Linked DNA regions of Homo sapiens: region 1 is linked to region 2. Evidence: fine-mapped QTL for protein levels in blood plasma. A gene starts in region 2. The other region holds a variant in brackets. All regions are shown on one strand. Distances are from middle to middle.

Region 1 (5,389 bases), 27 kb before region 2:
ATTTAATAGCAATTTACAGTAATCACAATTTCACCTTTAAATTAGAAAGTAAATTTAAGAGTGAAGGCAAAGTCCTACTTTCTTTCCAAAACTGCAATTACTGTCAGTAATTTTCAAGATTCATTCTCTTGATTTATACAAAATAGAGAAGTAAAGAAACAGTAAAAGGGGAGAGATTAGCTAATCCTTGTTCTTTTGTGTGTTAAAAAAAATTTGTCTGAGTAACCCTAAGTCTTCCCCAGTAACAAAATCATTTACCTGAATGCTACAGCTATTTAGAACACTGGGCAAGAACCAGAAAGTAACCAAACAAATCCACCAAGTGAACAAAATAGATACATCAAAATCTCTCCTAAAAAATATATAGGGGAGAAAATGTATAGGGGTGAGTTACAGGCTTGCCTCAAACTGAAGCTTATTTATCCATATTTCATATTCAATTCAAATGCTTTTTTTAAAATCTAATTTTGTGGTCTATGGTAGGGGTCAGCAAACTTTTTTAGTAAAGGGCCAAATAGAAAATAGTTTAGGCTTTGTGGGCCAGCTGGTCTCTGTCTCAGCTACTCTACTCTGCCTTTATTGTGTAAAAGTAGCCATAGACAACCTGTAAAGAAATTGAAGTGGTGTGCTTCGGTGAAACTCTGTTTACAAAAAGGATGGAGGGCTAACCTTCGCTATGGGCTGTAGTTTACAGTTCCCTGATATATAGCAATTTAGAAGTATCAGGCAAGCATAGGACAGACTCAGAATCAATGAAGTTTGTATATTATTTACATCAATGTTATGTTGCATATTTGTTGTTGACAACCGAAAGTATAGAAAAGCATAGGAAAGAGAACAAAAACTATCCATAATCCCTCAGTATGGATTTATAGGCAAATGTTAATTGTGGACATTTCTCCCCATCCAATCTTTTTTCATATATATATTCTTTTCTAATATATATCTATATTATATATATTATATGTAATATAATTATATGTAATATATATAATATATATAATGTATATTATATATTATATATAATATATAATTACATATAATTATAATATATATTTTCTACATATATATGTAGAATATATTATATATTATATATAGAAAAATATATATTTTTTTCTAATATATGTGTGTGTGTTTTAATATTATTGAAATCTTTATATATTCTGCTTTTTGTCATATTGGTTATTTTTATGATGAAATATTTCAAACATACCACCAAAGAATAATATAACAAATATCAGTATACTCATCACCCAGTCACCCGTACTTAATATGAAAGTGGGAGCTTATTAAATACAACGGGTGTACGTTAAATGGCAACATTTGTTAAAATAAAGCTAAAAATTGGGAATTTATTATTGGAGTTGTATTAGGGACTATCATATGCTTTTCTTTAAGTCTAACTTTTACTGGGATAGAGTCACCAGATTAGACAACACATTCAACGCAAGATCCCTCCTGTAACAATTGAGATAGGTTAGGCTGCAGATTTTCTTTTTCTCCATTTGTTGGCCTTACTCACTTCTGTTCTTCCCAGTTACACAGAACCCTCAGCCTGACCACTGTCTTTATAACTGGTACTGCTTGCAGTGAGCTTTTGCAAACAGTGCTGAGATTGACAAGTGAAGTAATTGGTACTCGGGCTGAAAGATAAGTACATCAGGTTGACAAGTGGTGGTAAAGTCTGAGGGTATGACCAGTTGGGAAAAGGGGCATATGTGTGTGTTTGTGTGTGTATGTGAGAGAGAGAGAGAGAGAGGGAAATATGGAACATAGCTGAGTTGAAGAAATAGAAATTTTTATTTCTAGTCCCTTTCTGAAAGAATTGAATGTTTATATACTAGAAGCAAGTTATTTTGTCCTAAAAAGTCTGATCTTATTGACTGATGTTGTTTTGTTCTTTTTCAGTAGGTGACCATGGTTATGATAATTCTTTGCCTAGTATGCATCCATTTCTAGCTGCCCACGGACCTGCATTTCACAAAGGCTACAAGCATAGCACAATTAACATTGTGGATATTTATCCAATGATGTGCCACATCCTGGGATTAAAACCACATCCCAATAATGGGACCTTTGGTCATACTAAGTGCTTGTTAGTTGACCAGTGGTGCATTAATCTCCCAGAAGCCATCGCGATTGTTATCGGTTCACTCTTGGTGTTAACCATGCTAACATGCCTCATAATAATCATGCAGAATAGACTTTCTGTACCTCGTCCATTTTCTCGACTTCAGCTACAAGAAGATGATGATGATCCTTTAATTGGGTGACATGTGCTAGGGCTTATACAAAGTGTCTTTGATTAATCACAAAACTAAGAATACATCCAAAGAATAGTGTTGTAACTATGAAAAAGAATACTTTGAAAGACAAAGAACTTAGACTAAGCATGTTAAAATTATTACTTTGTTTTCCTTGTGTTTTGTTTCGGTGCATTTGCTAATAAGATAACGCTGACCATAGTAAAATTGTTA[G/C]TAAATCATTAGGTAACATCTTGTGGTAGGAAATCATTAGGTAACATCAATCCTAACTAGAAATACTAAAAATGGCTTTTGAGAAAAATACTTCCTCTGCTTGTATTTTGCGATGAAGATGTGATACATCTTTAAATGAAAATATACCAAAATTTAGTAGGCATGTTTTTCTAATAAATTTATATATTTGTAAAGAAAACAACAGAAATCTTTATGCAATTTGTGAATTTTGTATATTAGGGAGGAAAAGCTTCCTATATTTTTATATTTACCTTTAATTAGTTTGTATCTCAAGTACCCTCTTGAGGTAGGAAATGCTCTGTGATGGTAAATAAAATTGGAGCAGACAGAAAAGATATAGCAAATGAAGAAATATTTTAAGGAAACCTATTTGAAAAAAAAAGCAAAGACCATTTGATAAAAGCCTGAGTTGTCACCATTATGTCTTAAGCTGTTAGTCTTAAAGATTATTGTTAAAAAATTCAGAAGAAAAGAGAGACAAGTGCTCTTCTCTCTATCTATGCTTAATGCCTTTATGTAAGTTACTTAGTTGTTTGCGTGTGCCTGTGCAAGTGTGTTTGTGTGTGGTTGTGTGGACATTATGTGATTTACTATATAAGGAGGTCAGAGATGGACTGTGGCCAGGCTTCCACATTCCTGAAGCACACAGATCTCAGGAAAGGTTATTTTTGCACTTCATATTTGTTTACTTTCTCCTAACTCACAAGTTAAAATCATAACTTAATTTCATTAACTTTTATCATTTAACTCTCTCATGTTTGTTGTAACCTGAGGTATCCAAATGCTACAGAAAAATTTATGACCCAAATACAAATCTCAATTTGACTGGGACAGAATGAGGAATGGAGATTTTTGTATTTATCTTTGGGACTTTATGCCTTACTTTTTAGGCTATAGAATAGTTAAGAAATTTTAAACAAAATTTAGTATCTTTTGGTCTTTCACACCATTCATATGTTAAGTGGCAGAATAGCCTTAGTGCTACCTCCACTTTTTTCTCCAGTATTTGCATCACAGAAATAATCCCTCTGTTTAACATGTTTGTTCAGAGCCAAGGGTTTATTGTGAAGAACTGTCATCCTGCCTTTGCTAGCTGGTACCTTCTAGTAATCAAAATTAATATGAAGAAACTAGGTTGTGACAGACTAGATTATATTTAGTAGGGGAAAAATTGGGCTCAAGAACCATTCATCAGTACGTGAGACAAGCAGTTAATAGTATGATCTTTAAAGTTTTGACAATATAAAATAAACTTGGTAACTGTTTTACAAATATAAAAGTATAATAAATATGCAGCCCAGTTAAATATTGATTATCTGTGATGGTAAAGAACAACAGTGGTGCCAGTCATCAAACATACAGTGCGTCCTATTGAGTCACTGCTAATTTCTTGAGCCTGGTATTTGCTGCCTATTGTATTTGTGGTTGTTGAGAGGCATTTTCAAACCCTGTATAAATAATCCATGCTGTTGGTCATAAGTTAACTGTATTAAGAACAGTAAAATAAATAAAAACCAATAGTACTAATTTTGCTTTAAAAAAATTTCTAATTTTTTTCACATAAAACAATTATCCTAAAGGTTAATAGTTGATCGAAACAGAATAATAGAAAAATTCTACTTTAATTTCCATTAAAAAGCAAATAGCATTGACACATTTAAAGCTTTTCATTTAAAGTAGTGGATGTTTTTGAAGTATCTAAAATAGTAGCAGAATATTTTATACTTGGTCCTTGCAATGGTGTGAGTTTTAATGATTGCATTATCGTGATTGGTGGTTATGAGTTTCAGAAATCTATACTTGGCATCCAACTCATGAGTGGATTTTATATAGGATGGAACAGGAAGGTATGTCCTGTCAGTATCTTAACCCTTTCAACAAGACATTTACCTATTTGTCTTTCCTTACGTTCTCAAAATATTAACTCGAATTGTAAATTAAGCAAAAATTTAAAAAGTATATGTTGATGGGACAAGAAGAATAGTATTTATTTAATAAAACATATATTATATTGAACTATGTGTTAATTCATTTGTATCTTTTAAAAAATTATCACTGTTAAAGCCATTGACTCCTTTAGTACACTGAGAAAAATCTTATAGTAAAACTAGCCTTTCACATTAAGGTTTTGGTGTGTATTTTGTTAAATAACTAACATGCTGCTCTATTTTCTGGGTGTAGAAAGTATTTGGCTCTAGGAAACATTTACTTGTTTGTGAAAACAATACCCCAAGGTAATAGGAAAAGTTTGAGTTAAGTGTTTTTAATTCAGTCAGTGAATTCAGAATAAGTACATTCATGTATAACATAGGGACAGTTCTGCTGCTGTTATTTATATGCAATTCTTCTGGTAAATAGCAATAGAATAAAACATATTTCAATGTTTGTGTATAGGTTTTATATTATTATTCCACTAGGAATGGCATAAGAATTTATAGATAAATTCTTGTAACATTAAAGGATTAAAATGTTTTTACATTGTTTTTGGGTGTCTCCTTCTTGTGCCCATATCTGATAAGCTTTATGGATTATTGCATTTAATTCCTTTTATTTGGAGGGTTTTACTTCCTTGTTAACATATAAAGTTATAAATGAAGGACAAGGAGGAGATGGAAAATGTGTATTTATTGTTAATTCTTAAAATAGTGTGTAAATAAAATAACATCAGTGTGCTTTAAAGAAATGTGTATGTAGTGCCTTAATTTAAATTAAAATATTTTTGACTGTTACTTGAGTTCAGAATTAATGACTTTGTTCATGATTTTTAAAATGTGTGTGAATAAAATCTACCAAAAAATTCTTACTGTAATTATTAAATATAAAGTTCAGTGTCACTGGTGATTTTTACATTTGTTACCTTCTTGCAAAATATACTTACTGTGCTAGATGTT
Region 2 (5,389 bases):
GTTTAGCTGCATTTAAACAACTTTTTCACTTCTGAGAATTTATCTAAATATCCCTCAAAGGAATTATTTAAGTGAGCTCTTCAACAGCATTTTAAAATATGACATCATTTACATAAAACTTTTAGAAACATTTTCAGGTTGATCCAGACTTTTGACTTCTGGTCAGAAACTTTTTTATAGTCAAATACCTGTGAACATCCTTAACATTATGGCTAGAGCAACTATGGCAACCTAGCAACAATGAAGTATCATTAGCAAATCGAATAATGGTGCATATACATATATATTATATATATATGTATATGCACACTTCTATTTTCAACCCCTATGTTTGGTTAATCACAGACAAAAGATGTATTACTAAAGAGAGAGGAAAATAGATGAATTTGGTTTCTTGAAGTGAAATAACATTTGTGACATCCAGATATATTTATTGAAAAGTAATCTGCATTCATTTATTAATAATCAAATCACAGCATTCGTTGAACTAAATAATTAGATTCTAAACTAAATATTAACAGAAATATAATTCTGAAATTTGTTGTTGACTTTCCTAATGTTAAAATTTGTCAAAATTTAATCTTATCATTGATAGGTGTAGTAAAAGCACTTCCCTGGTTTAAAGCTCTGTGAATCAAGGTTGCTGGTCTTTTCCCCTAATCTGTGTATATTTCTAAAATACTTTCATTCTATTGAAGAAAGCTAATAAGACGCTGTATGGATAAACAATAGATATGTAAATTTTGTCAGTTTTCATCAGGCGTGCACATCCAGCAGGGATCTTTTGTTCTCTCATTTTTCTACCCATTCCTGCATGAAGGTATTTATAAACCCACCAAAACTTAGATCAAACCACACTTGTACAAATAAATCTCTTGAAACTGCCTTTTGATATCTTCCTAAGCTGAAGACTTCTTTTTTTTTTTTTTTTGAGAGGGAGTCTCACTCTGTTGCCCAAGCTGGTGTGCGGTGGCACGATCTCAGCTTACTGCAACTTCCGCCTTCCGTGTTCAAGCAATTCTCCTGCCTCAGTCTCCCAAGTAGCTGGGACTACAGGCGCCCGCCACCACACCCAGCTAATTTTTGTATTTTCAGTAGAGACAGGGTTTCGCCATGTTGGCCAGCCTGGTCTCAAAACTGCTGACCTCAGGTGATTCACCCTTCTCGGCTCCCCAAAGTGCTGGGATTACAGGCATGAGCCACCGCAGCCGGCCTGAAGACATTTTTAAACTTCAAAAATATATCCTGTTTCACCTTGCTGTATTATAGGTACAGGTAAATAAAAACTACTTGGCATGCTTGCTTTGCTTTCAGAAATACAAGGTATATGTACATTGTGGGTATTCGCTGAGGGCAATAAATTCTGTTTTGCTGGTTTTAAACTGTGTTTTCACCATACCTAGACATTTCTTAAACTGAAATTGTTTTAGGTATTGGTCTCAAGATGATAGCTCAAATGTCATATTTAAAAACGATTTCTTGGATGGCAATACTCTCTCTGATTCTGGAAGGAACATTAAACACAGTTGCAGCAAGGAATAGCAAATAGGTTACTGCAAATATATTTACTCACCTATCTGGCTATGGATGGTAGTTGCTCTCTCTGTCCTTTCTCCCCCTAATTTTCTCTCCCACCTTTTTAAAACAAGGAAGGCTAGTATCAACCAAATGTAATTTAAGGCTAAAAGCAGAGGAAATAAACTACATGGAACACCTCATTTTCATCTATCTTAGCAAATTAATTCGGCACATGTGTAAGCAGGAGAAAACTGCTTTCTTGGGACCAACAAAAGTAAGCAAAGATTAAGTGTTGTCTAAAGCTTAGGAATGTTTGGCAAGAAGACTCAACATCACATCCATGACACAGAGCAATAAACAGAGGTGGGGGGTGGGGAATGAAAACAATCAGAATTTTTTTTTTTTTCGTGCACAAAATGCTGCACAAAACAGTGGAATCCCTGGATCTGGCTCCACATTTCATTGAGTACTTTCCAGTTCTTTCTCCCCTCCAACCCTTCCTCCACAAACAGACTTGGAGAGCAGGAAGGACGGGGCACCGATTAAACGGAAGAGGGAAAGTGCAGAAGGAGTAGGTTTGTGTAGCTCGGGTAGACGTCAAGGGCGGGGGTGTCCATCTTCTCCACCAGGATTCCATCCTAGCCACCCAGAATGGTCGCGGCGTAGGTTATGTTCCCAATTCCCAGTCATCCCGCCCACCGAGGCCTGGGCTTCTTAGATGTGCAGTGGCAAGGAGGGGACGTTGCTTTAGGGACCCAGAGGAGCAGTGTGGGTTCCCGGGAGGGAAGCCACCCACGCCCCTGGACTCACCCTCGCAGCGATCCGTTCAGTCCGTATTAGTTTGGAGCAACGGGAGGGAGGGTCTGGAGGAGACTCCCTCGGGCGCGCCGCGGGTAACGGCGGGAGGGTGACTGGAGGAACGCCCCCGGAACGCGCAGGAGCTCACCTGCGCTCAACTCTGGAGCGGAGCACCTGACCGCGCCGCTTCCCCGCCCCGCCTCCTGGCTTCTATTGGCTGCTGCAGAGATAGTCACTTCTGCCTGGGTTGCCCCCGAAAGCCAGGCTCCCAGGAGTAGCTGCACGGCCTGTCAATCAGCGGGGGCAGGGGCGGGCGCTGCCTGGGTTTGGAGGGTGGAGGGGGAGGGGACTCCCGGGGGCAGGGACCCATCTGGTAGGGCGAAGGCGTGGGATGGCCAATTGCTTGGTCACACACAAAACCTTCCGGCAACGTGCCTTTTCCAGGGGACCAGCTGTGCTGGAGTCAGTGATGCTGAGAGATTATTGCGTGTTACCCCAATGGTGGGTGTACTCTAACAGTCACTGTTTTTTGTTTAAAAGCGACTTGTATTCTCTGATTTCTTATCCCAGGCTTTTTTCCTTCCCCCGCCCCCCGCCCCCTGCCTTGTCACGAATTGGCGATGGGGCACACCATGGGCTTTGCTCTGAGGAACACCTGCACACCCGAGGATGCCAATGGGACGATGAAGTTTCATTCTTTTTATTAGTGGGTGTTATCTGCTTTACCTCAGAAAGAATTTATTAACCTAGTCAACTCTGCAGCCCCAACGTTTGCAGTCCAGGTTTTTGCAATTGAGGTCCCTGAGGTATATTTGTGGTGTACCTAGCATGGCACCTGAAATTGTGCGAATTAAACCAAGACAGGTTCAGAATTAGGTTAATTTGCACAGGAGAGAGGCTGAACAGCCACCCTCTCTGGTGGTGGCATCCGAGCTCCAGACTCTGTTTCTACCTTTGTTTGCAAAGTAAACATTAAAACTACAAACATCAGGCCTGATTACTCTTTCAGAAAGCCTTCAGTGCTTCTTGTGTGTTAGTGCCCCTATTTTGTCTTTTTCCGTACTGTAGTGGATTATTTTCTCAGTTTTTTTGGGATAATCAATGGCATTTTTAGGCCTGAGGGAGTGTAGGCAGGTACTTAGTTTGCCAGTATGATCCCAACTGTCTTTACCATAAATTATAGCAGTGATATCAAACTACCCTGAAAGAATTTGTCCATCTACACAATCCCAGCTAGAATTCTGACCTAATTAGAATTCTAGTTCTATCTGCAGTAGGCAATAATATCAGGTTGATTGTTACAATGTAAGTTTAACATCTAATTAGCTGGTAAAACTGGGAGCATATCTGCAATGGTGGTTTTGGCTCCTGCCCGGAGCTCGGATCCCTTGTCTGGTGTGCTGGAGCTTTAAAGTGAATAGAGATATCTGTTGATATTTAATTAAGCCATGCAAACATTTTGGTCATAGCTTTTTCTCTGTCTGCTTCTAATAGAGGGACAATCTCAACCCCAAACATTGTTACCTCCTAACTGGGTCATCCCATCCCGAAGGGCATCTGGGCACTCTTCCATGGCCTTTTATTCGTGGTAACTTGAGTTTATGGTTTTCAACACGTGGGATGGGGATTAAGAGGGAGGCTGGTTTCTATGTTTAGTGAGACCCAAACACAATGAAGTTGAACAAGTTGTTCCAATTCCCCAAAGCCCTGTCCTTTGAAATTGCCCAAACTTGGAACAGAGTGGTCCAATCTTGTAAGTCCTTGTCCCCCAGAATAGGTCAACTCTGTGCTCTCCCAAAACACTCAAAGGACAATGTACGCTTATCAGAGAGCAGGAGTGGTGAAAATGGGCCTGACTTTTGTTCGGATCACTGAACATTGTTGGACTCTGTTTGGATGACAACCTGCTTTGCTCTGCAAATTTTATGGAAGTTATGATTATATTCACCAGCTATTCCTGTGAAATAGGCATGGTACAGCTGGTAACCACAGTGCACAACACAGAAAAGTGCTCATAAGACTGCCAGATTCCTCCCAGAAGTCCATATAATGATATCTAATGTTCACCTGATAGGCTTGCTATTACCTTATGTTGTTCATGGGGAGAAAGTCTGGTTTACATAGTATAGAGGAATGAATGTAAAACATGAGATTCCTGCTCCCACATCTGCACCTGCCCTCCTGTCTTATTGTTGCCTCAGTATCTGTCTATTTGCAATAGGTTTTCAGAAAGTTTTAGCAGCAGAAACCACAACCTGCTATTGACTGTAACTATTCTTTTATTCTCTGTTATTAAATTAGTGGAATTCTAATTGAATAATAGTGTAACAGAATAACCAACTTCTTTCTTTCAAAGGTTTTGGGGTCAGGTGGGGAGGGAGATCCCTCTGCCTCCCCAAGGAAGTCTAATACAGGTTGAGAGAGGGACAATTTTCTTCGTCAGGGGCTGGAAGAGCTTTGTGCTAAAACTGAAAAGGGATCTGTTCTTTAAGAAACAACCAGAACTGGCTCTACCACAGAAGTCTTGTTTTTCAGAACTAGACTTCATGATAGGAAAAATAAACACATAATTTTACAATTAAAAAATTTTAAAGGTGCATTCCAGTACATTATACCACAAATGACTAAACTAAAAGAAAGTTCATCTTTTAATCCTTTGTAGAACATTCTGCAAAATGTGGGTCTCACATATTCAATGGCCATAGATAGGAACCACTGGGATTCTGCTTCTGCACTGCTCTTAATTCATGATAAACAGTGGTCTTCACTAATCTTGACTCATTAGCAGAAGTTCAGTCCAATGAGTGAAATGTTGAATTATAGAATAGTCAAAAACTTAGCCCAAGAATTTTTATGCATATTAATAAATTAGGCTTCTAGTGATATGCTTGAACTAATTAGAATGAATTTTGTAGAAGCAATTATTATGCTTTTATCCTCAGAAAGCTTTATATAAGTCAAATATAAACCTATTTGTATTGTTGTATTCTGTAAATTGTATTCATAGTGTTTTAGTTCTAGGACTGCCTTAACAAATTATCACAAACTGGGTGACTTACGACAAACAGAAATG

Direction of the effects. Alleles are on the strand shown, and positions count from the first base shown. The strength of an association depends on the size of the effect and on how common the allele is.
As copies of C replace G in region 1, the plasma level of the protein whose gene starts at base 2,501 in region 2 goes down (weak association).

What was found. A credible set is the group of variants that fine-mapping cannot tell apart. PIP is the posterior inclusion probability: the model's chance that the variant is causal. Protein levels are from antibody-based Olink assays in UK Biobank. Linkage for the fine-mapping came from a reference panel and not from the study's own genotypes, which makes the PIPs less certain.
Region 1: its variant is the best candidate, but not a certain one, in a credible set for the plasma level of the ENPP5 protein (UK Biobank, PIP 0.52).

Annotation. Positions count from the first base shown.
Region 1 is chr6:46,141,368-46,146,756 of GRCh38, forward strand. It overlaps ENPP4 (ectonucleotide pyrophosphatase/phosphodiesterase 4), which reads left to right. Exons shown (of 4, transcript NM_014936.5): 4 at 1,909-5,321. The coding sequence ends at 2,273. Among named protein-coding and RNA genes, the nearest start is that of ENPP4, 14 kb to the left of the region's middle. The variant G/C (reference allele first, on the strand shown) is at 2,478.
Region 2 is chr6:46,168,480-46,173,868 of GRCh38, forward strand. ENPP5 (ectonucleotide pyrophosphatase/phosphodiesterase family member 5) reads right to left here and starts at 2,501. Exons shown (of 5, transcript NM_001290072.2): 1 at 2,329-2,501; 2 at 1,574-1,635. RefSeq lists a silencer at 2,673-2,732.